Linked DNA regions of Homo sapiens: all the other regions are linked to region 4. Evidence: fine-mapped expression QTL. A gene starts in region 4. Each other region holds a variant in brackets. All regions are shown on one strand. Distances are between the middles of the regions. Region 1 has its middle 13 kb from the start of LINC03139. Region 2 overlaps CDH23 (cadherin related 23). Region 3 overlaps CDH23 (cadherin related 23). Region 4 holds the start of PSAP (prosaposin).

Region 1 (7,480 bases), 38 kb after region 4:
CGGGGTTTCACCATGTTGGCCAGGCTGGTCTCGAACTCCTGACATCAGGAGATCCACCTGCCTCAGCCTCCCAAAGTGCTGGGATTACAAGCATGAGCCACCATGCCTGGCCTAAATCTTAATTTAAAAAAAATATATATATACTTTTATATATACATATACCTTATATATATCTTTTATATATATACACCTTATATATATCTTTTATATATATATATCATATATATCATATATATATATATATCATATATATATATACTCTCACACACACATATACATATATCTTTACCCCATGATCTCCAATCTGAAGACAGAGAAATTTGCATGAAGGAGGCACACTCAGGGTGGTCTGAGGGCAGAGCCCTGGCGTGGGCAGTGGGAGTTCCTGCTCCAGGCCAGCTTTGCACCTCGCCTGCTGGGAGGGCTCAGGCAGAGCATCCACCTGGGCTTCTGGGAGCCTCTGCTTCCTTCTTCAAGGCCTGTGGCTTTCAAAATCTTAATATGGAATCCCACCATGATAGCCCAGTGTTTCTCAATCCTGGCTGCCCTTTTGAAAAACTGGAGGAACTTTAAAAATATATACCTCTTCTCAGTCCCCAGAGATACTGACTCAATGCCTGACTTAAAAAGCTGCTCAGGCGGGCAAAGTGGCTCACACGTGTAATCTCAACCCTTTAGGAGACTGAGGTAGGAGGATCGTTTGAGCCCAGTAGTTCAGGACCAGCCTGGGCAACATGGCGAGACCCTGTCTCTACATAAATAATAAAAAATATTAGCCGGGTGTGATGGTCCACGCCTATGATCCTAGCTATTCGGGAAGCTGAGGAGGGAGGATCGCTTGAGCCCAGGAGGTCAAGGCTGCAGTGAGCCAGATCGTGCCACTGTGTTCCAGCGTGGGCAACAGCAAAACTCTTGTCTCAAATAAATAAATAAAAAATAAAAAACAAAACAACAACAACAAAAGAAGAAAAAGGAGGAGGAGGAGAGAAAGAAAGAAGGAAGAAAAAGAGAAAGAAAATTAGAATGGGAAGAATTTCAGTTTTATAACTGTAACTGATTATTTTAAACGTATTTTTATTGTAAAAATAAAACCCGGATACAGAATCCAATGGTTCTGATGTACGGCTTAACTAATTACTACAAAGTGAACTGCCTCCGAGACCAAGAAAAAGAACTTTGCCAGCCACAGCAGAAGTCTCTCCACGCGCCCCACCCCAGTCACTCCTTCCTCTTCCATAAGTAGTCATCCTTATTCTGACTCACAGGACGCATTAATTGCGTTTTTAACAGCAAGTCCGCTGGAGGTGGGAGGCGCTCGGGGAAGCTTCTAGGGCCGTCAGGGCCCATTCCCTCCGCTAACACCCCTCTCTCCCCAACCCTCAGGTTGCGCAAGACCTCTCCAGCCCGGCGAACCCGTGGGGCTCAGCAGTCCTCCTCCACGCTCAAGATGCAGTTTGATGCAATCCTAGAGGACGCAGTTTCAAGTTTCTCGAGATAGAGAAGCGAAAGAGGATCCGAAACCGCGCTTCACATCTGAATCTGATTTCAGATTCCTCCGGAATATAGCGGAAGCGCGGGGTTGAGGGCGCAGACCGGGGCAGAGGAGAGGCGCGCAGGTCTGCTGGGACGCAGCGCGGGGCGAGCAGTGGCGCACTCGTGGCCTGACGCATCCGCGAGACTGCACGCGGCCAGGCGGGGGCACGAACGGGTTGGGGCATGCGCGGGCAGCGTCGAGTGGGTCCCTTGGGGGTGGGGGTGGGGGGCAGTCGAACTAGGGAGAGAGTCTGTGGAAGGGCTCAGTTGTCACTTCACACCTTTCCCCGCTGTTTATTGATCTTTAACTCTCTCTGTGTGTCCTCTCTCTCTCTCTCTCTCCCTCTCCTCTCTCTGTTTCTCTCTCTCTATCCCTTCCTGTCCACCCTTTGGGGCCATCTCTTCCAAGAAACAACCGTCTCTCCCAGCCCATGGGAAATTGTCTCTCCTGCGAACTTATCCAACCTGAGGGGGTCTCATCCATGCCGATACCGGCTGCTTGTGGAACCTTGTAAGAGTTCTTCCCTCTCCCTGTAAAATGGAGATAAGCTGTGTGGTGCTGAGGCCAGCGCCGGGCACACTCACCCTCACCTTCTTCCTGAGAGAGGAAAGAGCCTGGAGACCTGGATTCTACCTCTGCCCCCAACCCCTACCACAGGGTAGCCCTGCCACCACCTGCTGGTTCTTTGGGCAAGTCACTCTTTTATTGGACTTCCATTTCCTCAGCTCTAAAATGAAGGAGGTGAGCCCAGTGTGGTGGCACCTGTAGTTCCAGCTACCTGCAGGCTGAGGCAGGAGGATCGTTTGAGCCCGGGGGGCAGAGGTTAGAGTGAGCGGAGATCTTGCCACTGCACCCCAGCCTGGGCAACAGAGCAAGACCCTGTCTTTAAAAAAAAAAGTGATTAAAAAATAAAAATAAAATGAAGGAGTTAAACAAACTCAGGAATTTTGTATGAATGGCATAAATGAGCACATTAGAAGGAAGCAACTTTCCTTCTCTCTTTTTTTCAATCCTGTACAGGCCAGCTTCCCCTCTGCCCTCTGCTCCCCTCCTCCCTCCCTACCATCCTCCAGCCCCCCAAAGCCCTCCCAATTTGAGCCTCCTTTTGGAAAACATCTCTGAGTATGGTACCGTTGGTATCGGTGACTAAGAGGCTCCAAGGATACCCTTCTGGGGGATTTCCAAAATAATGAGGAAGTCCATTTCCAAAATCATGGGAAGTCCCAACTGGGCCTCCCAGACAGTTGGCCACTGAGTCTGTCCCCTAAAGGATCTGCTTGACTTGCACAGTCTTAAAGGCATCATGTCTGGTTTTTAAACATAATTTCAGTTAGTAGCCAACAGTTCAGATCAAGGGATCACACGGCCTGTTTGACCTGTTCTTGCAGGGTCATGCATGCTCCACTGAGCCATGGGAAGTGTCCACACCCAGCCATGGGAGCCCTGTGGGATCTGAAACTGACATTTCTGCTTTAGGTGCCTTAAGCTGAAGAAATGCATAGTAGCGGGAATTGGAGTGCAAGTGAGTGCAGTAGGGGAAGTATTTTGCCATAAGAAACCCTAAGCCTCTATGGACAAGAAATTCTCCAGGGGCAGACTGGCCTTGACCCCAGAAATGTCACATTGGACTCGGCCTTGGTTTTCCTCATCTATACAATGGTCAATCAGACTAGTGGTTTGTTTTTTGTTTGTTTGTTTGTTTGTTTTCTCTGTCGCCCAGGCTGGAGTACAGTAGTGCAATCTCGGCTCACTGCAACCTCTGCCTCCTGGGTTCAAGCAATTATCCTGCCTCAGCCTCCCAAGTAGCTGGGACTACAGGTGCACGCCACCACATCCAGCTGATTTTTGTAATTTTAGTAGAGATGAGGTTTCACCATATTGGTCAGGCTGGTCTCAAACTCCTGACCTCAGGTGATTCACCTGCCTTGGCCTCTCAAAGTGCTGGGAATACAGGCGTGAGCTACCACACCGGGCTCAGATT[T/A]GTGATCTTTAAGGGTCCTGTGAACTCAGCACTCTAGACATTTTAGGGCCTGTGCACTTCCGCGGTAATGGTTTCTTGTTTTGTCCTCACTCGGAGGGCACACTCCTCAGGCTAGTGGCATGGGCCATTGTCCTAGAGTCCCTGGGGCCCGGCCCTACCATGAATTCTGCGTCTCTCCCTTCAGCCCTTGTCCCTCCCTCCGTGCCATGGCTTGGCACCGTTCTTGTCTTTGCAACCCTCCACAGGCGCCTCCTCCTCTGACCCTTCAAACCTTCCTGCCCTCAAACTCTGTCTCCCTACACCTCCCTGCCTTCCACTCTATGTTTCTGCCTTCTCCTTCAGCCCACAGATATTACTGACCATGGTTGCCAGCCCTATGTTAGGCCTGGGAATTCAAGAGAGAATTAGAGCCCTCTGTGGACTCCCAGCTCTACTAGGGAGAGAGACCCACAAATAGGGATAGAGAGGGGTAAATGCTTCAGTGGGTGAGTACAGGGCCTGCAAGGCCACTCAGCTCAGACTGAGGGGGTCAGAGAGAGCTTCCTGGAGGAGGCAGTATCTGAAGTGAGAAGCGGAGGGAAGTCCACCAGGCACACACAGCAGGTCGGCGAGAGTGCCGCAGGCTGAGGATGCGGCATATGTGAAGGCCCAAGGAAAAGCAGAGCACGCAGCATGCAGGCCCTGGAGGGGTGAGGCTGCACCTGGGGAGGTCTCATCCCAAGGCTGACAGCAGGTTTAGGGTCTGGAAACGCCACATGCCCTGCTGTCTCCCTGGCTGTTCAACTCCTTCCAGGCCTGACATTCACCAGCTCCTTGAAGACAAGATCATGCAGATACTTTTCAGCACACACATCTGGTCTCCCCGGCAAGTGCCCAGCTCTGGGCCTGTACCCTCCCAGCAGCACCACACAAGATGGCCGACCTGAGCTCATCAACTGCTCACTGGGGTCCCTCCCCTGACCCTAACCCTGCTTCAGTCACCCAGTAAGGGATCCCTGGCATGCAACATGTCCTTGGCTCCAGAGGGGTTAGATCCTTGGGGCTCCAGCAGGCAGAGCTGGAGCCTCGTGGCGTTTTGAGTACTCATAGGGACGGTTTGGGTTGTTGCAGGGATGTGGGAGGCACTGCTGGTGTTTGGGCCAGAGACCAGGACGGCCGAACATCCTGCAATGCTCAGAGCCGCCCTTTGGAACAACAACAACAAAAAAACTGTCCAAAGTATTCTGATTTTCAAATGTCCCTTCTGTAGCGTCCCCTAGTTTGTCCCACTTTCTTTCCGTGTCCTGACCGAAAATCTAGAGTGCCTTGACTGTTTCATGACCCAACCAGCTGCAGGGCTTCCCAGCAGGCTTGAACCCAAACCAGGGCCTCGAACATTCCCAGGCACTGATAAAGAAGTCTAGGTTATTGCCCAAAACCCTGAACAAAACTGGCCCCAGGCTTGAGCCCAATTCCTTAAAGCCTCAGAAAAATTCCACACCCTGACCTCATGGCTGTGGACACACCTAGGTGGACCTCCCTTTCTCTCCTGGCTGCCTGAGGATGTGCACGGCCCTGTGGAAGTGAGCTCCCCTAATAAAAGCCTGGACTCATCACCCCGGCGCTTCGTGCTTCTCTCTTTGGAATCCCAGCTGGCCCCCCTTCAGGATGATTCAGGCACTCCCTTGTGGGAACTCCTCTGCCACCACTTTTGGGGCAACCCTAGCTGAGGGCTGGGGGTGAGACAAGACACTTTCACATATTCGTGTCACTGAAAAACCAAACTCCATTTCACACCTAAACATGAGGTATTTTTGAATATTTTATTTTATTTTATTTTTTATTTATTTTATTGTATTTTTTGAGACGGAGTTTTGCTCTTGTTACCCAGGCTGGAGTGCAATTGCACAATCTCGGCTCACTGCAAACTCCGCCTCCCGGGTTCAAGCGATTCTCCTGCCTCAGCCTTCCAAGTAGCTGGGATTACAGGCATGCGCCACCACGCCTGACTAATTTTGTATTTCCAGTAGAGATGGGGTTTCACCATGTTGGTCAGGCTGGTCTTGAACTCCTGACCTCAGGTGATCCACCCACCTCGGCCTCCCAAAGTGCTGAGATTACAGGCACCCAGCCTATTTTTTATTTTTGAGACAGAGTCCCACTTTGTTGCCAGGCTGGAGTGCAGTGGCACAATCTCGGCTCGCTGCAACCTTCTCTTCCAGGGTTCAAGTGATTCTCGTGCCTCAGCCTCCCGAGTAGCTGGAACTACAGGCGTGCACCACCATGCCCAGCTAATTTTTGTATATTCAGTACAGGCGGGGTTTCACCATGTTGCCCAGTCTGGTCTTGAATTCCTGACCTCAGGTTATCCACCTGGCTCGACCTCCCAAAGTGCTGAGATTACAGGTGTGAGCCACTGCACCCAGCCTTTTTGCATATTTTAAAACATACTCTGAGAACACAAATGAATGGAAGATTGGACTTTGTTTTGTAGGGAACTTCGCCAAGAGTTTAACCATTTCAGAGAATCACAGCACTGATAGCGGCTTCTCTCCCAGGTTCAGGTCACCAAAACAGCATCCTCCACCATCGGCGTTGGTGGCTGGGTATCTGTGATGCTTCCCATGCAATGTGAGCAGCTGCCCACTGAGTCCCGGAGTCCTAAGACCCTTCCCTCACAATCCTAAGACAGTATTGCCTTTTCACTGTGATGGCATTGGTGACATAAAAGCCACTGTGGGCAGGGTGCAGCGGCTCGCACCTGTAATCCCAGCACTTTGGGAGGGTGAGGCGGGCAGATAGCTTGAGCCGCAGAGTTTGCCCAGACCAGCCTAGGCAACATGGCAAGACCCCGTCTCTACAAGTAATAATAATAATAATAATAATAATAATAATAAAATTATCTGGGCATGGTGGCACGCATCTATAGTCCCAGCTACATGGGAGGCTTAGGTGGGAGAATTACTTGTGCTCGGGTGGTAGAGGCTGCAGTGAGCCGTGATCGTGCCGTTGCACTCCAGCCTCAAAAAAAAAAAAAAAAAAAAAAGCCACTATGGGTGAAACTGCTGGAACTTCAGGAAGCAAGGCAGTGGCCACAGACTAGGCAGGTCTCTGTGCACTCCCCTAGATAAGCACTTGTGGGGACAAAATATGCCTGTGTCACTTAAGTACATACCCTTTTGATCTCCTGTGTGATGAAGCAGGGATGCACACAGAGCGCCTGCTCCAGAGCAGGGGACTGGCTCGCAGAAACAACTTGTCAGAGGTGGAGCCACGCGAGCCTCTGGTCCAGGGAACACAGTTTATCTTATTTTTTAAATTAATTAATTAATTTATTTATTTATTTATTTTTGAGATGGAGTCTTGCTCTGTCACCCAGGCTGGAGTGCAATGGCTCGATCTTGGCTCACTGCAACCTCCGCTTCCTGGGTTCAAGCAATTCTCCTGCCTCAGCCTCCTGAGTAGCTGGGATCACAGGCACACACCACCAGGCTGGGTAATTTTTGTATTTTTAGTAAAGATGGGGGGTGTCACCATGTTGGTCAGGCTGGTCTCGAACTCCTGACCTCGTGATCTGCTTGCCTCTGTCTCCCAAAGTGCTGGGATTACAGGCGTGAGCCACTGCGCCCAGCCGAGAACACTGTTTATACGGGAAAGAACGACGAACAGACACATGATGGGTATTCAGATCTGGGCATTTGGCAGACAGACATTTTCTCATAAATGAGCAAAGTGAGCCTGTCCCTTCAAGAAACTGAAGCATTTGTTGCCAATGATAAAGTTGGAACTTGGAGCTTTCAAGGGAAAATTAGAATTTTGGAAAATTTGTGTACACCACCACAAGCTTGACAACTTCTCAATATTTAAAGATTTTTCTGATGCGATGGATGGCAGTGCTAACAAATGCTATTTTTTGACACTGTTCAGTGACATGTCATCTTTTGGGAGATGTATGTGATTTAATGGGTACAAAATTTCAAAGAGGC
Region 2 (5,000 bases), 36 kb before region 4:
TCTGCTTGAGGCCAATTTGGCAACAAACCCAGATACCACAGTTGCATCCCAGGATGTTTATAGAGCACCAAAGTTAATACATAAAATTAAAGATTCTCAGCCAGATGTGGTGGCACACGCCCATAGTCCCAGCTACTCAGGAAACTGAAATGGGAGGATCACTTGAGCCCAGGAGTCCGAGGCTGCACTGAGCTTTGATTACGTTGCTGCATTCCAGCCTGGGCAACAGAGAGAAACCCTGTCTCTAAATAAATAAAGGGCAGGTGCGGTGGCTCACACTTGTAATCCCAGCACTTTGGGAGGCTGAGGCTGGTGGATCATCTGAGGTCAGGAGTTCCAGACCAGCCTGGCCAACATGGCGTGCCTGTAATCCCACCTACGTGGGAGGCTGAGGCCGGAGAATCACTTGAAGTCAGGAGGTGGAGATTGCAGTGAGCCAAAATCGCGCCACTGCGAGACTCTGTCTACACACACATACACACACACACACACAATTTTCACAAGAAGCCGATACACACACACACAATTTTCACAAGAAGCCGATACACACACACACACACACACACAGATTTTCACAAGAAGCCAATCCTCCCAAGAACCCATCTGCAGCAACTTAAGCATTCATGATTCCCCTTTGCAGGCAGTTTGAGAAACAGAGTCTGACAGGCCTGCTGCGGTAGGAGCCCAAGGTTCAGCCACATAGCCAGTGGGTCTCTGGGGCCATCCACCTGCTCACCCCTTGGGCATGGCCCTGAGCATGTGGGGGTCCCGGCCTCTTGCAGCTGATACAGACTGAGCTGGACGAGGAGCCAGGAGACCACAGCCCAGGGCAGGGTAGCCTGCGCTTCCGCCACAAGCCACCAGTGGAGCTCAAGGGGCCCGATGGGATCCATGTGGTGCACGGCAGCACGGGCACGCTGCTGGCCACCGACCTCAACAGCCTGCCCGAGGAAGACCAGAAGGGCCTGGGCCGCTCGCTGGAGACGCTGACCGCTGCCGAGGCCACTGCCTTCGAGCGCAACGCCCGCACAGAATCCGCCAAATCCACACCCCTGCACAAACTTCGCGACGTGATCATGGAGACCCCCCTGGAGATCACAGAGCTGTGACTAGACAGGGAAGCCTTGTGGGTGTGAGCAGCACCCATCCACCGTCCCCTCCCAGGGAGCAAGGGCAGGGACAGGGCCGGTCGGGGGGGACCCTCCAAGGCCAGGCCTTGGGGACAACCTTGGCTTGGCCCTGGCAGCCCGCATCAGCTGCTCAGATCCCACTTTTGCCAGACGCTCATTCAGCATCTGACCTCTACCTTCATAAGATCTGTTATTTTTATAAGAAAACCAAACAAAAATGTTAAGCATCTAAGGACAAGGTAAGGAGGGTCACTGGGGCCCAAGAGTCTGGGGACCAGCTTGGCTCAGGCTGAGCTGAAAGAGGCCAAACAGGCCCTCCTCCCTCCCAGCTCCACCCCGCAAGCACCATCCCCTCCGGCTAAGCAGGCGCAAGGGAGGCCCAGCGCGGACATCCCCTGCTGGCCGGACACCCGACTCCAGTCCAAGTCTCGCTACATTTCCGCCACATCCCTCTCTGCTGGACGTCCAGGTGGAGGTGGCATCCCCACGTGGACAAGAAAGTCAATGTCAATGAACAAGCATTCTCTCCATTTCACTGGCTTCCCAAATGTGTGCCCAGCTTATAAACAGAAGTGACTGATGTTCCCTCCGGTTTTGAATGTGGAGTGTTTGTGTGTGTTCCTTTTTTAAATTAAGTTATTCCCTCAATAGTTTCCCCTTGGTTTTGTTTAACTGGTACTCACTACAAGTTTCTGGAATGGTTTGTTTAAAAATCAAGGCAACTCTCAAGGAACTGGCAACGTGCTCTGACTCTGGCCTCTAGGGAGCAGGGACAGGGGCAGGTGAAGAGCAGAGCCGACCTTCAGGTGCGCCTGACCTACTGCTGGCCCTGAGTCTTGGGGAGGATGAGGTGGGATCTTCCTTTATCCACTTTGCTTTCATTCTCTGGCCAAGATGGGTCATGGGAGTGCTGGGCCCCAAAGGTGTCATGGGCTCAGAGCTCATCAGAGAGGAACAAACTCTTCCAGCTGAAGGGTCACAGAAACATTAGGCCCAGATCTGGCTAACAGAATTTTATTGTTAAATCACAGAAACTTTAGTGCAAAACAAAAATCACGAAGTCCATTTAATAGCAACTTCATGTCCTGCTGGCTTTGCTTGCTGTCTCCTGGCAACCAGAAGTGGACAGAAGCGTGGGTGCCCAAGTGGGCCACAGACAGCTTCCAACCCCCACACCCCAGCATCCAATCCACACCCAGCAGACCCTTCGGCATGCCGCCCTCTACCAGGAAGCCAGAGGCCTAGGAGCT[C/T]GCCATCCATATTTATTTGAAAAGGTCAAAAGGAGCATCTATGAGACAAGGGAGGGGTGCAGGCTGAAGCAGCGCCTCAACAGCCAGGGACATGTAGGCAACACGAGCAGGCACAGCGCGGCCACCACTGTCCACACGCTCACACAAGCCAGGCCCGCAGGGCCTTCGGAGAGCTAGCAGGTTACATTCAGGCAGATGGCCCTCTTCCCACCCAAACCCACAGAACCCCAAACAAGGCATCACCAGGAAAGACACGGGAAAGCCAAATCACAGTTGAACCAGGGACAGAGAACCCTTGGCCCCACTGATGTCCCAAGCCACCAGCAGCTGCTTCCAAAATCCCTATGCTATTACAGTGGGAATTACATCATTTAAAAAGCCTGATTATTCCAGGCTTCTAATCTTTCATATAAAACTGCCTTTGTTTTGCTGCTTTGTTCAACTGAGAGGCCCAGGAAAGCGGGGAGGGTCCCTGATCAGGGCAGGAGGCCACCTCAGAAGCCCAGGCCCACCAGTGCCCAAGCACATGTCAGGGCTCAGAACAAGGCCTCAACCAAGAGGGTTGATGGCCTCCAGTCAAGAAACTGTGGCTCATGCCAGCAGAGCTCTCTCCTCCTCCAGCAGGCGCCATGCAAGGGCAGGCTAAAAGACCTCCAGTGCATCAACATCCATCTAGCAGAGAGAAAAGGGGCACTGAAGCAGCTATGTCTGCCAGGGGCTAGGGGCTCCCTTGCAGACAGCAATGCTACAATAAAGGACACAGAAATGGGGGAGGTGGGGGAGCCCTATTTTTATAACAAAGTCAAACAGATCTGTGCGTTCATTCCCCCAGACACACAAGTAGAAAAAAACCAATGCTGTGGTTTCTGCCAAGATGGAATATTCCTCCTCCTAGTTCCACACATGGCGTTTGCAATGCTCGACAGCCTGGTAGGAGAGAGGAAGCTGAGTTTAGTCTTCGGATGAAAAACTCCGTTCCCGGCCCATCAATGTATCAGATATCACCCCAAAACAGGACCTGTTCTCTTGTCCTAGGTCAGCTGGATGGCACCAGATGCTGAAGACCCAGGACAGGATCTCACTTAAAAACAGGGAACACGTGGCCATCAGAGTTTTGGGAACTTCTAAGGCACGAGTCCAGAGCAGCAGATGCCTGCAGCAGTTTGCAGATGAGTACCCACGCAGGCAGGGCTCAGGACCCTTCATCTACCTGCACCCGGCACCCAGCGTCCTGCTAGCAGCCTGCACACTAACTCCCAGGCAGAACCTCCTTGCCTGAGTTAGGCTACACACCAGCTCGGGCCTTGAGAAGCAGGCCCACATTTCCCCAGGACAGCAGCAGAACCAGCTGTGGGGTGGGGCTGGCGGTGGAGATGGGCTGGAGCCTAGCTGGAGGAAAGAGCTGGACATGGCCAGAATGGGGGCCCCCTGCCCCTCCCTGCAGTGGTCCGAAATGACACAACCGCCACTGACATGGTCACAGGGAAGCCCGGTGAGGAAGGAAAAGTTGCACAAAGCAACATTAAGTAACAGGGACCGAACCAAACATCCCCACCCAGGGAAGCAGCACAAGTCACCCAACTGGTGGCTGCCAGGCCAGGCCAGGGCCACAGTGCCCTAGGGCTGCTGGGCAGGGGCCAGTTCTCAGGGCCTTGAGTGAGGACTCGGGCCCGGCTTCAGCAAGGGCAAACATGTTCCCGGGGGACAGGACCTGGGCAAAGCTCTGGGCAATGAATCCCACAGACCTTGTACAATCCCTGGAGTGACCTTGTACAAGTCTGACACTGTCACAAGGGAAATGAAGACAAAAGCAACAAAGCAGAAGCAAAAAAATACTAAAAAAAATAAATAAATAAAATCCACCCCACCCTTCACTACAAGAGTGTAGTTCACCCTGTCTTTTCTAGGGGACCATGAGTAAGCCTAACCACCTCTCTGGGCCTCAGCTTTCTGATAACATAAAAGCAGGGTGGAGAGTTGATCACTGGGTTCCCATTAAAGCAGGATTCTCACACAGGCTACCCCAGGGCAAGACAGGCTGGTGACACTGTCTGCTGAGCTACTCACATTGCACTGGGCTGCTGTCTCTGTGTTCTGGCACCAGTAGCTTGGGCCCCATATACACTTCTCAGTTCCCAACAAGGGCTTATGGGCCGAGGGGCAGGCTCCAATTTTCTATATGGTGAGAAAAGGAAAGAAGAAAGGGGGAGAATGAGAGCTGCCCGATGTATCGCTTTCAAAACTAAGAAAACAGTTTCCAGAAGGAGCTAGGATCACAGCTCCACCACGCTCTTTCAGAACATCAGGGTTGCTGAGGAAAGCGATGGGGCTTGGGGGGCTGGCTCCCTACCTTCTTGGCTCTCCCGCAGCAGAACCCAGAGACTCCACCCCACGGCCAAGTCTCAGAGCAACCCTTCCGGGTCTCTGCAGCCCCCCAGGTTACAGCTGCCCGAGAGGACCACACCACCCAGTGAGGCTCACCAAGCACACGAAGGAAGGATCCATCACCTCCACCAGGATCTCGATCAGCACGGGCTCGTACTCTGCCACAAACTGATCACACTATAAAGGAAAGTGGGGACACAGGTCCAGCTCTGGGGGTGTCCGAGCATAGTGGGGC
Region 3 (5,000 bases), 55 kb before region 4:
GGTGTGCATCATGGGGGTACCAGCCAGCAGTGCCAGCGGTGAGAAGCAATAAATTAGACACACACAGAGCAATGTAGATGGATCCTAATAATAAGTATTTACTGAAAAGGATAATAAATGGGATGAGATATATGCCACAGCACCATTTCCATAAATGTAAAATACATACAAAATAATACATGATTTTCAGAAATACTTTTATTAACAAAAAATATACTTCAATACATTACAATGACTGCCTGAGGGGAGAAGGGAAGGAGAGATGAGTATGGGAATGAAAGGGAGTAGACGCACACATAAAACAAGAGAAGTGCCAGTGGTCATAGTGTGCAGCGAGCCAAAGAACATGATAAACTCAATCTGCATTTGAGGCCCAAAGGGAAACAGAAGAAGGAAAAACCATGAGCACTAGGAGAAGTTAGATAGAACCAGCTACATCCCAGGTTAGCAAAATTCCTGGCTGCATGGGTTGGTCAGGACCATGGAGAGCTGCTCCACGTCCCTACTCAACTTGAGGCTCTGCTCAATCCCCTACTGCTTTTCTCTTTCCTGTTCCCCCTTCCTCCAGCTGACTCTCTTCTCTATTTTTCTTTCCAGTGTCTTCTCTGCCCCCTCCTCCTCAGCCCTCCACTCCTCCCTTGCCCACTTTGCTACCTTTTCTTCTTGCCAGAGCCTCAGCCCCTGAGCTCTCCACTCCAAATGGGCTTCCACTTGCTCCCCTGGTTTCCTTCCCAGTGCCTCTTCCCCTCCCCACTCCCTGTTTCCACCCCTCCCTCCCTCCTCCCACCCCGTCAGCTCTGAGTCCCCACCATCCTCCCTGCCCTGCTCTGCTCCATCCCTGCTGCACCCTGAACTAACTGATGTTAACCCTCTTCTCTCTTCCTCATGGCTGGCAGGCCCACAGGTTTGAGCTCTGTTTCTCTGTCACTTCCCACCTCATCTCTTCTCTGCCTCACCCCATTGCCTTCCTCCATGCCCACCACACCCCCACCACCCTTCCTGTCCTGTGGGGCCTGGGCCAAGGCCGTGGCCCAGCCTTTGCAGACTGAATGCAGCCGCCCTCTCCCCATCCTCGCTCCCCAGCCTGGGGGACAGGGAGCGAGAGTAGGAAGAGGAGGAGGAGGAGGAGGAGGAGGCGGCCCAGGGTAAGTGACTACCCCATGGCTGGGGACCCACGGAAGACAGAAGCCCAGCAGGGGGATCTGCCAAGGGGGAAGGGAATCTCAGATACCCCTGTACCTGAGAGGGAGAGGAGGTCTCACTCTGGGATGAAGCCAATGGGAGGAGAAGCCACCAGGCCCTCTAACAGGCAGGAACAAGAAAGGTCCCAAGAAACGCAGCACTGAGGTCAGCCAAACTAGGTCTGTCCAGTCCCCGCCCATGCTTCTGGGGGGTTCCTCTCTGATTTGGGGAGCAGGCAGGGACTCTGGGAGGCAGTGGGTAGAACAGAAGGAAACCCCTTGCTAGGACTGCCATGGAACCAATGCTCCTGTCCCACAATCAGCCCATGTCACTCCCTATTTAATCAAGACAAAGGGATGGGCCTGAAGTATCCAGACGGTCCCACCACTGTCCCCTCCAGGGAACCCCTCAGGGCTTTTCAGCTACCATGACTTTCCTTTAAACTTGATCTCCCTAGAATCTAAGCATTTTTTAAATGGTGATAAAATACACATAACGAAATTTACCATTTTAGCCACTTTTTAATTGTAGAGTCCAGTAGTGTTAAGTACATTTGCATTGTTAAGGAATACAGCAGTTTTTAAACAAGCAGTTACATAGCTTCTGTGTGCCACGCACTGTTCTAAGTACTTTACAAATGGAAACTCATTTTGTTTTTCTAATCCTCAAAATAGTAGGGTATTGAGAAAAGGATGGGTTGACAGTCGGTAGTGTAATTATCTAGTTTTACAAATGTGGACACAGAGGTGCAGAGAGGTGACATAACTTCCCCAACATCACCTGCTTAGTAAGCATCATGGGAGGGGCAGAGCCACGTG[A/C]CCCAAGCTTATGAGGAGGCTGTGGGCCCACCCCAGCCACAAGTCCCAGATTCTACTGGGGACCGTCATCCTTTGTGGGGATTGGGAGGGTTTGGCCAGGAGCACCCCTGGGAAGGGCAGATTTTAGGGGGTTCTTCTCAGGCTGAACCTGGCCTGGTCTGGTCCACAGGATCTGTAATGGTGAAGTCCCCCATGAATCGGGAGCTGGTTGCCACCTATGAGGTCACTCTCTCAGTGATTGACAATGCCAGCGACCTACCAGAGCGCTCTGTCAGTGTGCCAAATGGTAAGGTTCCCTGCAGACATCTCTCATTGGTCACTCAGAGCCAATCAGGGCAGGGGGCAGGTGGGGAACAGGCACTGGTCTGTCCCCAGGGAGGGAGCAACAAGACCCAGTTGCTCTGGGGGCCAGGAGTCAGGCAACACAAGAGGCATGAAAGGTGGCAGCCACCGTGAGGCCCAGGGTGGTGATGGCTACATAGAGCTCAGCAGTGGAGGATCCAGAAGCTCAGAATTGTGTGTGATCTGAACCCCCAGGCTGAGAGTAGGAAGGAGGCTTGGTAGAGCCTGGAACAGATTGAGAAAAAATGGTTAGACAGAGGCTTAGGTTCAGCCAGCAGAACTGGTAACCAGGGTGTGGGTAGGATGTGAGATGGGAACCCTATGATCTTATAGGAAGCCACAGGGTTAGCACAAAGGAAGCAAAGAATGAGGGGAGGTAACCTGAGGCCACAGACACTGCTTTGGGGGTGCAGGCACTTACGGTGGAGAACGGAGGGGCCCAGTGTTACCTTCTGCCAATCGGGCCCAGGCCATCCTGCCTGCAGCCTGAGGCGTGGGCTGGGAGGGGGCTGCCAGAGGGGTGGATTTTGTGTGGGCAGAGCGAGAGTTGAGTGGGGGAAGTGGGGATGGGGTGGCCTCAAGTTGCCTCAGCCATGAGGTACAGACAGCTGCTATAGGGGAAGCCAGGCCTGGCAGATGATGACTGCTTATCTTCACAGCCCAGAAGCCCACATTTTCCGGAAGGAAGGGCAGACTTGGTCATCTCTTCCATGTCAGAGGCTCAGATGGTTAAGGGCCCAGGCCGGTTACATAGAGGGGATACATACAGCTCAGACAGGATCTAGGGTCTTAAAGATTATCTTGCCCTTTCTCATTGAGCAGTTTAGGAAACCGGGGCACAGGAAGGGCCGAGGGCTCCACCAGGGTCACCTAGCCCTTCCTCTTATGGAACAGCAAGTGAGCACACCACTGGAAAGCCTCCTGTGCTGCAGCCTGAGGGTCAGGTCAATCCTCAGGCAGCCTCTGGGGGGCTGTGGGATGCTGCCATGCTCACCCGGCTTGGCTGAGGCTAAGGAAGGCCTGGCCCAGCCACACTAGTGTCCTTCCCCTCTCCCTCACTCCCTGCCTCCACCACAGCCAAGCTGACTGTCAACGTCCTGGACGTCAATGACAATACGCCCCAGTTCAAGCCCTTTGGGATCACCTACTACATGGAGCGGATCCTGGAGGGGGCCACCCCTGGGACCACACTCATTGCTGTGGCAGCCGTGGACCCTGACAAGGGCCTTAATGGGCTGGTCACCTACACCCTGCTGGACCTGGTGCCCCCAGGGTATGTCCAGCTGGAGGACTCCTCGGCAGGTAGGTTAGAAATCTGTCAGAGGAGGGCTGGGGGACATATATCTCTGCTTGCTTAGTCCCCAAGAGAGACCACAGCCCCTCTGTGGCTCCTCAGTGGACTGGGCCAGATCCAAGATGGCCAGCATTCCATGCCAGATTCCAGATGCCCAAACCAGGGGAAGGGACAGAGTGCTTACTCCTGGGTTGGGATGGAAGCCTCTTGATGTCTGCCGGAAACCTGGGATACCCCACCACCCAAGCTCCTACTATTAGTACCACCGAGGGAGCAGGAAGGCCAAGAAGGAGGTGTCTCAGGTCCTGGGCTAGTTGATGCTCATTCCTGTGACTGGGAGAAGCTTTTTCACCCTCCATAAGAAAAACTGGACACCAGTCCCTCCCTGCCGTGTGCCCTGCAACTGGGTGGTGCTGCCTGACCACCCTCCTTCAAGTGACCACAGCTGCCCCTCGGAGTCCAGGTCTTTCTCCTCATACTTTGGAGAGCTGCCATGAATGAGGAGTGGCCAAAATGGCAGTGGGAGCCTCTGTGTCTTAGGGAAGGTCATTGCCAACCGGACAGTGGACTACGAGGAGGTGCACTGGCTCAACTTTACCGTGAGGGCCTCAGACAACGGGTCCCCGCCCCGGGCAGCTGAGATCCCTGTCTACCTGGAAATCGTGGACATCAATGACAACAACCCCATCTTTGACCAGCCCTCCTACCAGGTGGGTGGCCAGGCCACAGGCTGGGTCCAGGACCTGCGCCCATTCCTTGGGGTCTTTGGGCATCTTCCTCTCCCACCCTGCCAGCCTCTAAGCCCCCTGGGAGTGCCCAGCCCACGAGCAGCTTGATGCCTGCATCAGTGAGTTCTAGGGCTGTGCTCGGGCTCTGGGACTGACCTTGGCCTACTCTCTCTCCCTGCCCCCTGGGCTCCAGGAGGCTGTCTTTGAGGATGTGCCTGTGGGCACAATCATCCTGACAGTCACTGCCACTGATGCTGACTCAGGCAACTTTGCACTCATTGAGTACAGCCTTGGAGATGGAGAGAGCAAGTTTGCCATCAACCCCACCACGGTGAGCAGTGATGGAGGGCCTGGAATTTGGAAGTGGGAAGGACCCAGGGTCAGAGACTGAGCAGCCACCAAAAGTATTGTAGTAATCCCTCTGGGTCTTGTCGCCTGGACATCTGCATCCCCAGAGGTTCTTTAGCCAAGTCAGCAAACCCTGTTCTCAGAGTCCCAGACATTTGGTAGACTGTGGCCTTTCTGTCTCAACAGATGTTTAAGGAAGTGGCCAAGTCTTTTGGAATGAGCCCTTTGTGGGACAACATCTGAGATGTGTCCTCTCCACACTAAAAAAGCATGATTGAAGTCCATGGG
Region 4 (7,462 bases):
GTGGATTTTATATTTCCCGAGACACGATTGAGTCCCTTTTGGGTGATGTGAATGAATCAGAACTCTTAAGGGTCTTGTGAGGAGTGACTCAACGTCAACAAGAACAATGGATAATGTAAAAAGAAAGAAAAAAAATTGCCCTGAATCAGTATAAAAAATTTAGAGACCAGCATTAGTTTATTATACAGACCATGGAATAACTGCAGTATAAGCTTGAGTATAAAATCAAAATGATTTTTTTATAAGCAGATCATCTTTCATTGTGTACAAGTAAAACAAATTTAAGAGCTTCGTATAGGGTCAAGATACATTCTTGAGAGCTGCTGAAAGCTAACTCATTTCTTCGGTTTTGCATCAACCCTGTCATCCACTTTGTTACTTTTTATTAAAATTTGGGTAGCTAGGTTAAAAATGGCAGCCAGCCCTTAAACTACATATAGTTACTAAAAAACAGACATTGTGGTGGGGGCTGGGTGCGGTGTCTCACGCCTGTAATCCCAGAACTTTGGGAGGCTGAGGCGGGAGAATGGCTTGAACCCGGAAGGCGGAGGTTGCAGTTAGCCGAGACTACGCCATTGCACCACTCCGGCCTGGGCAACAACAGCGAAACTCCGTCTCAAAAAACAAACAAACAAACAAAACAAACAAACAAAAAAAAAACGGCCAATAGCGTGCAAGACTTTCTTTTCTCTTTTTCTTTTTTTCACAGGTGGGGTCTTGCTATGTTGCCCAGGCTGGTCTCCAACTCCTAGGCTCAAGCGATCCTCCCACCTCGGTGTCCCAATGTGCTGGGATTACAGGCATAAGCCACCGCACCCAGATGCAAGACATTTCAAAGCAAGTGAAATGAGGACCCCATGGCAAAATAACTGGACCAGAAAACCCTATATCGCCTTCAATACCTATGAGAATTAAGCTCCGATTTTTTTTAGCTTGCCCAAATTCCTATCTAAGGGGTGTAGGAATCATACCCTACAAACCATAAACTCTCATCAGATGGGTTTTATTTGACCCCATATATCGTGACTTACTTTCCAATCTGACTCTGGCATAACATTTTATAAGACAAGGAAAAAAAAATCAAAATATCTAACCCCAAAATATATTTCCTTGCCATACCTTGAAATTGCCCTGCAAAGTCTCTTGTGGGAAAAATCCACATTCTATAGAGAATCCCCTTTCCCCTATGTTTTCCTTCCTTCCTCTCCAGATCCAGGAGATAATCAACTAAGAGCCAGTCACCCTTTCATTTCCATAGAAATATTTTACAACGTGCTCGCTCTCTTAGTCGGCTACCTGAGAGCTTCCTCTGCACAATAAAACTTGGTCTCCACAATCCTTTATCTTAACTTGAATACTTTCTTTCTATTGATTCTAGGTTTTCAGATAAACTCAACCAATTATCAACTAGAAAATGTTTAAATTTACCTATGGCCTGGAAGCCCCCCGCCGCTTTGAGTTGTTTCGCCCTTCTGAACCAAACCAACGTATTTCTTAAATGTATTTGATTGATGTCTCGTGCCTCCCGAAAATATGTAAAACCCAGCTGTATCCCAACCACCTTAGGCACATGTTCTCAGGACCTCCTGAGGGCTGTGTCACGGGCCATGGTCACTCATATTTGCCTCAGAATAAATCTCAAAATATTTTTACAGAGTTTGACTCGTTTTGTCAACACCTAGAATCCAGAGTAAATACATATGCAAACGTCAATATAGATGATACACATGTGCTTCCTGCAGCTTCGCTACCCTTACAAACAGGCAACTGAAGCCAACGGCCAAAGTGTCCTGCGGGACGGGGCTCCAGCCCACCTCGATCACGTGCGCCCAGCACAGGCACAACACAGCTGCCCAAGGGGTCACCCTACAAGACTCACCCACCCCCACAGTGGGAAGCGCAGCCTGAGGGAAGGCCTCGGGGCCCCAGCCGCGCAGGAACCCACTCGAGCCCCGAAGGAGATGCTGCCCAGGGCCTGGGCCGTCCTCCCGGGGGCATTTTCGCAGCCCGCCCCCCGCAGCCCCCAGCCGCCCAGAGAAAGCCAGAGAAAGCCAGCGAACGCGCCTGCGCAGTGCGCGCGCCCCCTTGCCAACTAGGGCAGGGGGAGCAGAGGGGCCAGGCCCGGCACAGCCCATTCTGGGGCAGATGGACGCTGCGAGGCACCTCCTCCCCAGGATGAGGGTCCCAGGGCTTACCCGCGCCCAGGAGGCTGGCCAGGAGGAAGAGGGCGTACATAGCGCCGTCTGACTCCGCAGTCTGCAATGCGGAGCGTCAGCTGATCCCCCGCAGATATAAATCTGCCCTGCCCCAAAGCCGTCCAGAGCGCAGGCGCTAACCCCGCCCCATCCGGGCCTGCCCGAGCTCAACAGCGCCCTGACTCAGCGCCTCTGAGGGCGCCTGCGCGAAGGGGAGGCCAATAGGAGGGGGCAATGGGAGGGGCGAAAGGAAGGGCTATGGGGAGGAGTGAGGAAGAACTTGGAGAAAGGGAAGGGAAAGGTCATAAAAGAAAAGCCCTACTAATTGAATAGGTCAGAGATTATATATGTAAAATACCTTTTAAATCTCCACATTGTTGGCCGGCCGCGGTGGCTGACGCCTGTAATCCCAACACTTGGGAGGCCGAGGCGGGCGGAGGGTTCAAGACTAGCCTGGGCAACGTGGTGAAACCCCATCTCTACAAAAAAAAAAATACAAAAAAATTAGCCCATTGTAGTAGCGGGTTTCACATAGAATAGCTTGGGGTTTCACATAGAATAAGTAGTCGTGTAACAGGGTACAGGGCTCAGTCCTGGCCAGGGGCACGTGGGGGCAGGTGGTGGCACCTGGTCAAAGGCAAGTCTGGGCTGGGCATGCTGGCTCACTCCTGTAATCCTAACACTTTGGGAGGCCGAGGCGGGCGGATCATGAGGTCAGGAGTTCAAGACCAGCCTGGCCAATATGGTGAAACCCTGTCTCTACTAAAAATACAAAAATTAGTCAGGCGTGGTGGCGCTCGCCTGTGGTTCCAGCTATTTCAGGAGGCAGAGGCAGGAAAATTGCTTAAACCCGGGAGGTGGAGGTTGCCGTGAGTCAAGATCGCACTACTGCACTGCAGCCTGGACCACAGAGCGAGAGAGATTCCCATCACCAAAAAAAAAAAAACAAAAAACTTTTAAGCCTCACATTGTGGTACCGTTAAAGATGTAATACCATTCCTCACCCATCATAAGAGATCATAAGAGTCACAACCAACACTCCTGTAACGAGACAGCTTAAGAGAAAAGCATAACAAATTTATGTAATCAACGTTTTATGTGACATGGAAGCCTTCAGAAATTAAGACCCAAAGACCCTCTGCCTGTGGCTGCCCCTGCCAGGACCTGAACAGAGAATGATGATGACCCTCTCCAGAAGGATAAGAACCTGCCAACCGCAAGGCAGGGAAAGGAGGGGAATCTTAGCCCCTTAGGGCAGGCACTTAGAGGTCATTTACCTGTAGGGACATTGAGCCTAGGAGAGGGCAAGACGTTTATCCAAGGTCACACAACAGGTAGAGATAGAACCTGGCCCGAAGCCAGGTTTCCTGACCCAGGAAGGGCAAACCTACAGTTCCTCCAACTTCCTCCAATCTGCAATCCGCTCTGGAGAACAACCCCAGGGACTAAGGCCTCAGAACCTTCAGTTCTGCTCCCCTGCAATCTCCCTAAGTGCCCCCAGCCCCCACCACAGCTCTGACTTCCTCTGGGGAGCCAGATGGGGAAGTGTGCCCCATGCACCACAGTGGGCCATGTGAGGCAGCTGAGTGAGTTGGGACAAGATGTGGTCTCAACTGGACGCCTCACAGGTCGGCCTCAGTGGCCAGATGGAGACTTCGTGGCTGCTCCACCTTTGGGCTTCCCAAGGCCAGGCAGAAGCGTGGGGCAGACCACACAACAACTGGTTAAAAGCAAGGGAGCTAGCCGGGCGCGGTGGCTCACGCCTGTAATCCCAGCACTTTGGGAGGCCGAGGCAGGCAGATCACGAGGTCAGGAGATCGAGACCATCCTGGCTAACAGGGTGAAACCCCGTCTCTACTAAAAATACAAAAAATTAGCCGCACGATGTGGCGGGCGCCTGTAGTCCCAGCTACTCGGGAGGCTGAGGCAGGAGAATGGCGTGAACCCGGGAGGCGGAGCTTGCAGTGAGCCGAGATCGTGCCACTGCACTCCAGCCTGGGCAACAACAGCGAAACTCCGTCTCAAAAAAAAAACAAACAAAAAAAGCAAGGGAGCTGGGGCTCTAGGACAAATCCCCCATCCTTCAGCTCCTTGCAGATGGAGGAGCAAAGCATCCCAGTGCTCCATGCAGAGGTTACAGGACCCCAAGCCAAAAGGACGCTCAGAGACCTCAGATCATCCCCTCTCATCTTATAGAGCTACTGACATCTCAGGGCTGGTTAACAACAGAGCCTGAACCAGGACTTGTTTTTTTTGTTTTGTTTTGTTTTGTTTTGTTTTGTTTTTTGTTTGGAGATGGAGGCTCACTCTATCACCCAGGCTGGAGTGCAATGGTGCGATCTCAGCTCACTGCCACTTCTACCTCCCAGGTTCAAGCAATTCTCCTGCCTCAGCCTCCAGAGTAGCTGGGATAACAGGTGCACGCCACCACACCTGGCTAGTTTTCTTGTATTTTTTGGTAGAGACAGGATTTCACCATGTTGACCAGGCTGGTCTCAAACTCTGACCTGAAGTGATCTGCCTGCCTTGGCCTCCCAAAGTGCTGGGATTACAGGTGTGAGCCACCACACCCCTCCTTTTTTTTTTTTTTAAATATTCCTCCTTCATACCTAGAGGAATATGTCAGTGTTTTTGAGAGAAACTTTTGCTGCCTTTCATCTCCTCACCTGTAACTCAACAGTAATATGCTGCTTCATCCGCCTCGTCCTGAACCCCATGAGGACAGAATTTTAACAAAGAATATAAAAGCAATAAGTAGATTATTATTAATTTTTTTACCTTGTCAGTAGACGCTTAAATCCTCTTAAAAAAAAAAAAAAAAAACCTTCTGAACCATCTGCGTGTAGGCAACAAGAGCTGTGAAGCTCCTCAAACCCTCTGGCTCTCTTATGCCTTTCCTAGCTATGTACCCTCAGGGAAATACTCCAGAAGTGAAGGAATATTTTGTCCGAAGTGTTCACAGAAGGGCCCTTTAGAAACATGGAAGCTGGAAAGATCCCAAGTGCTGAACAATGAAGAGATGACTGTGGAAACTGGCTGGACAGAGCAACGGTACTGAAGCAGCTTTGAAACAGGAGGAGGAGGGAGCAAGGGCTAGGCTGCAGCAAGTCTTCCAGGAACGTGGGTCCCAAGAAACATGGGCAGAGTGAGAGGCCAAACCCCATCTGCTAGTAAGCCCTGCTGCTGACTTCCCAGAGAGGATGGCAGAACTGGTGGAGAGCTTCTAGATCCTGGATCCCATCGGGCGCAGTGGCTCACACCTGTAATCCCAGCAATTTGGGAGGTCGAGGCGGGCAGACCACTTGAGGTCAGGAGATCGAGACCAGCCTGGCCAACATGGTGAAACCCCATCTCTACTAAAAATACAAAAATTAGCTGGGTGTATTGGCATGCGCCTGTAATCCTAGCTACCTGGGAGGCTAAGGTATGAGAATCGCTTGAACCCAGGAGGCAGAGGTTGCAGTGAGCTGAGATCGCACCATTGCACTGTAGCCTGGATGACAGAGCGAGACTCTCTCAAAAAAAAAAAAAACCCCAAAAACAAACAAAAAAAGATCCTGCAGCCTGCCGCACCCCAAAGAGAGGATGCACGGGCAGCCATGGCCCTCCACCCTGTCCCTCTCCCTCCCACAAGTGCAGGATTTCAGCCAGGAGGGGAACAGAGAATTGGAAGTAGGGGGGAAATTCTGACTTTGGATTAACTCATCTTGCATTATTTCACTCATGGAAATGTCCACATTGCAATTTTTAAAAAACAAAATTAATATAGGAAATTTTAAAAGAGAAAAGAAAATCCCTTCCACTACCACCCTCTGGGAGCTCAAGTCTTCAAGGAACTGAAAAGATATTTTTCCTTAGAAATGTGAGCCACGCTTAAGGTTTCTCAATGGCCTTCCAGTTCTGGATCTCAGTTCTGCATGAGGCCCCAATTTTCATGTCTGAGATCTCTTGAAATCCCCACCTGTCAGACCCTTTTAATAATTTTCCAGCCGGGCATGGTGGCTCATGCCTGTAATCCCAGCACTTTGGGAGGCCAAGGTGAGAGGATCACTTGAGCCCAGGAGTTGGAGACTATCCTGGGCAACATGACGAAACCCTGTCTTTACAAAAAAATGCAAAAATTAGCCAGGTGTGGCGACACAGGTCTGTGATCCCAGCTACTCCAGAGGCTATGGGACGGGAGGACGGCTTGAGCCCAAGAGGTTGAGGCTGCAGTGGTGCACCTCTGCTTGTCAGCCGGGGCAACGGAGCAAGACCCCATCTCAAATAATAATAATGATGTTCCCTGTGGCCCCAGATGGCCTCCATCTGTTACTTTTTCTACAACTGAAAGTTCCGGCCAAGACAGCCAAGGAGATAAGACATATCTACCATTGAGGCCCAGCCCACCTGCTTGGCCCCAAGGCTCCACTCCAGTGCCCTAAACAGCAACCCTGGAGCCCCCTAATGCCCTGGAAGCCTCCCTTGACCCCTCACCCTGTCTCAAACAATGACAGGTTCTCTCCCTCCAGCATCTTCCTACTCGAGACCTCTGGCTTCAGACCCTCTAGCCTGCACTTGTCCTTGTGCCTGGAATGAGACCTCAGGTGTCACTCAAGGCAGGCTCAGGCTGTCCCAGGGACACCTCTCCCATCACCCACCAATTCCCAACCTCTGACTTCTCCTCCTATACCCCCACCTCCCCTGGACTGATGGAGCACTCAACAGTGCAGCCAAGCTCACCAAGCCCTCTGTGCTTCTCAGCACCTATTTAGCCTCCCCTGTGGCAGAGTCTGCTACACCCTCTAATATCATTCACCCCCTTCTCCTTGATTTGATAGTTACTAATGAGACCCCTTATTTCTAGCAGGGCACATGGCCACCTAAAATAAAAGCTACACATTCCAACCTCCCTTGCAGCCACGGGACTTCACTGTGGCCAATGAGATTTAAAAAAACAAGTGCCCAATTTGTGACTTCTAGGTACTGCTTTTTAAAAGAAGGCATATATCCAGTGCAAATATTCAAATATTTAACAACTAGTACTGCCAGGACACTGGCCATAGTGCTGGGGGAATGTCCTAGAAGGCCCCAACTGAGCCAGGCTGCTGTCTTGGAGGGGTGGATGGTTCCTGGGGATGACCCGGCAGCGGGGGTGGGCAGCAGGAGGCTAGCAGGTGTTACCAACTGGTACGAAGTCCTTCATAATTTATTTATTTTTATTTTATTTTATTTTTATTTATTTATTTATTTTTATTTTGAGATGGAGTCTTGCTCTGTCGCTCAGA

What was found. PIP is the estimated chance that this variant, and not a neighbour inherited with it, causes the effect.
Region 1: its variant is fine-mapped to the expression of PSAP in whole blood (TOPMed, PIP above 0.99).
Region 2: its variant is fine-mapped to the expression of PSAP in whole blood (TOPMed, PIP above 0.99).
Region 3: its variant is fine-mapped to the expression of PSAP in whole blood (INTERVAL, PIP 0.94).

The regions. Positions count from the first base shown.
Region 1 is chr10:71,887,466-71,894,945 of GRCh38, forward strand. No RefSeq gene overlaps it. Among named protein-coding and RNA genes, the nearest start is that of LINC03139, 13 kb to the left of the region's middle. RefSeq lists a silencer at 1,613-1,702. The variant T/A (reference allele first, on the strand shown) is at 3,516.
Region 2 is chr10:71,814,170-71,819,169 of GRCh38, forward strand. It overlaps CDH23 (cadherin related 23), which reads left to right. Exons shown (of 70, transcript NM_022124.6): 70 at 783-1,778. The coding sequence ends at 1,109. PSAP (prosaposin) reads right to left here. Exons shown (of 14, transcript NM_002778.4): 12 at 4,862-4,942; 13 at 4,448-4,555; 14 at 2,129-3,307. The coding sequence ends at 3,272. Among named protein-coding and RNA genes, the nearest start is that of MIR7152, 26 kb to the left of the region's middle. The variant C/T (reference allele first, on the strand shown) is at 2,381.
Region 3 is chr10:71,794,935-71,799,934 of GRCh38, forward strand. It overlaps CDH23 (cadherin related 23), which reads left to right. Exons shown (of 70, transcript NM_022124.6): 49 at 2,170-2,286; 50 at 3,420-3,644; 51 at 4,177-4,346; 52 at 4,558-4,695. Among named protein-coding and RNA genes, the nearest start is that of MIR7152, 6.7 kb to the left of the region's middle. The variant A/C (reference allele first, on the strand shown) is at 2,001.
Region 4 is chr10:71,848,987-71,856,448 of GRCh38, forward strand. PSAP (prosaposin) reads right to left here and starts at 2,265. Exons shown (of 14, transcript NM_002778.4): 1 at 2,196-2,265. The coding sequence starts at 2,235. RefSeq lists enhancers at 524-1,023, 1,415-1,945, 1,946-2,476.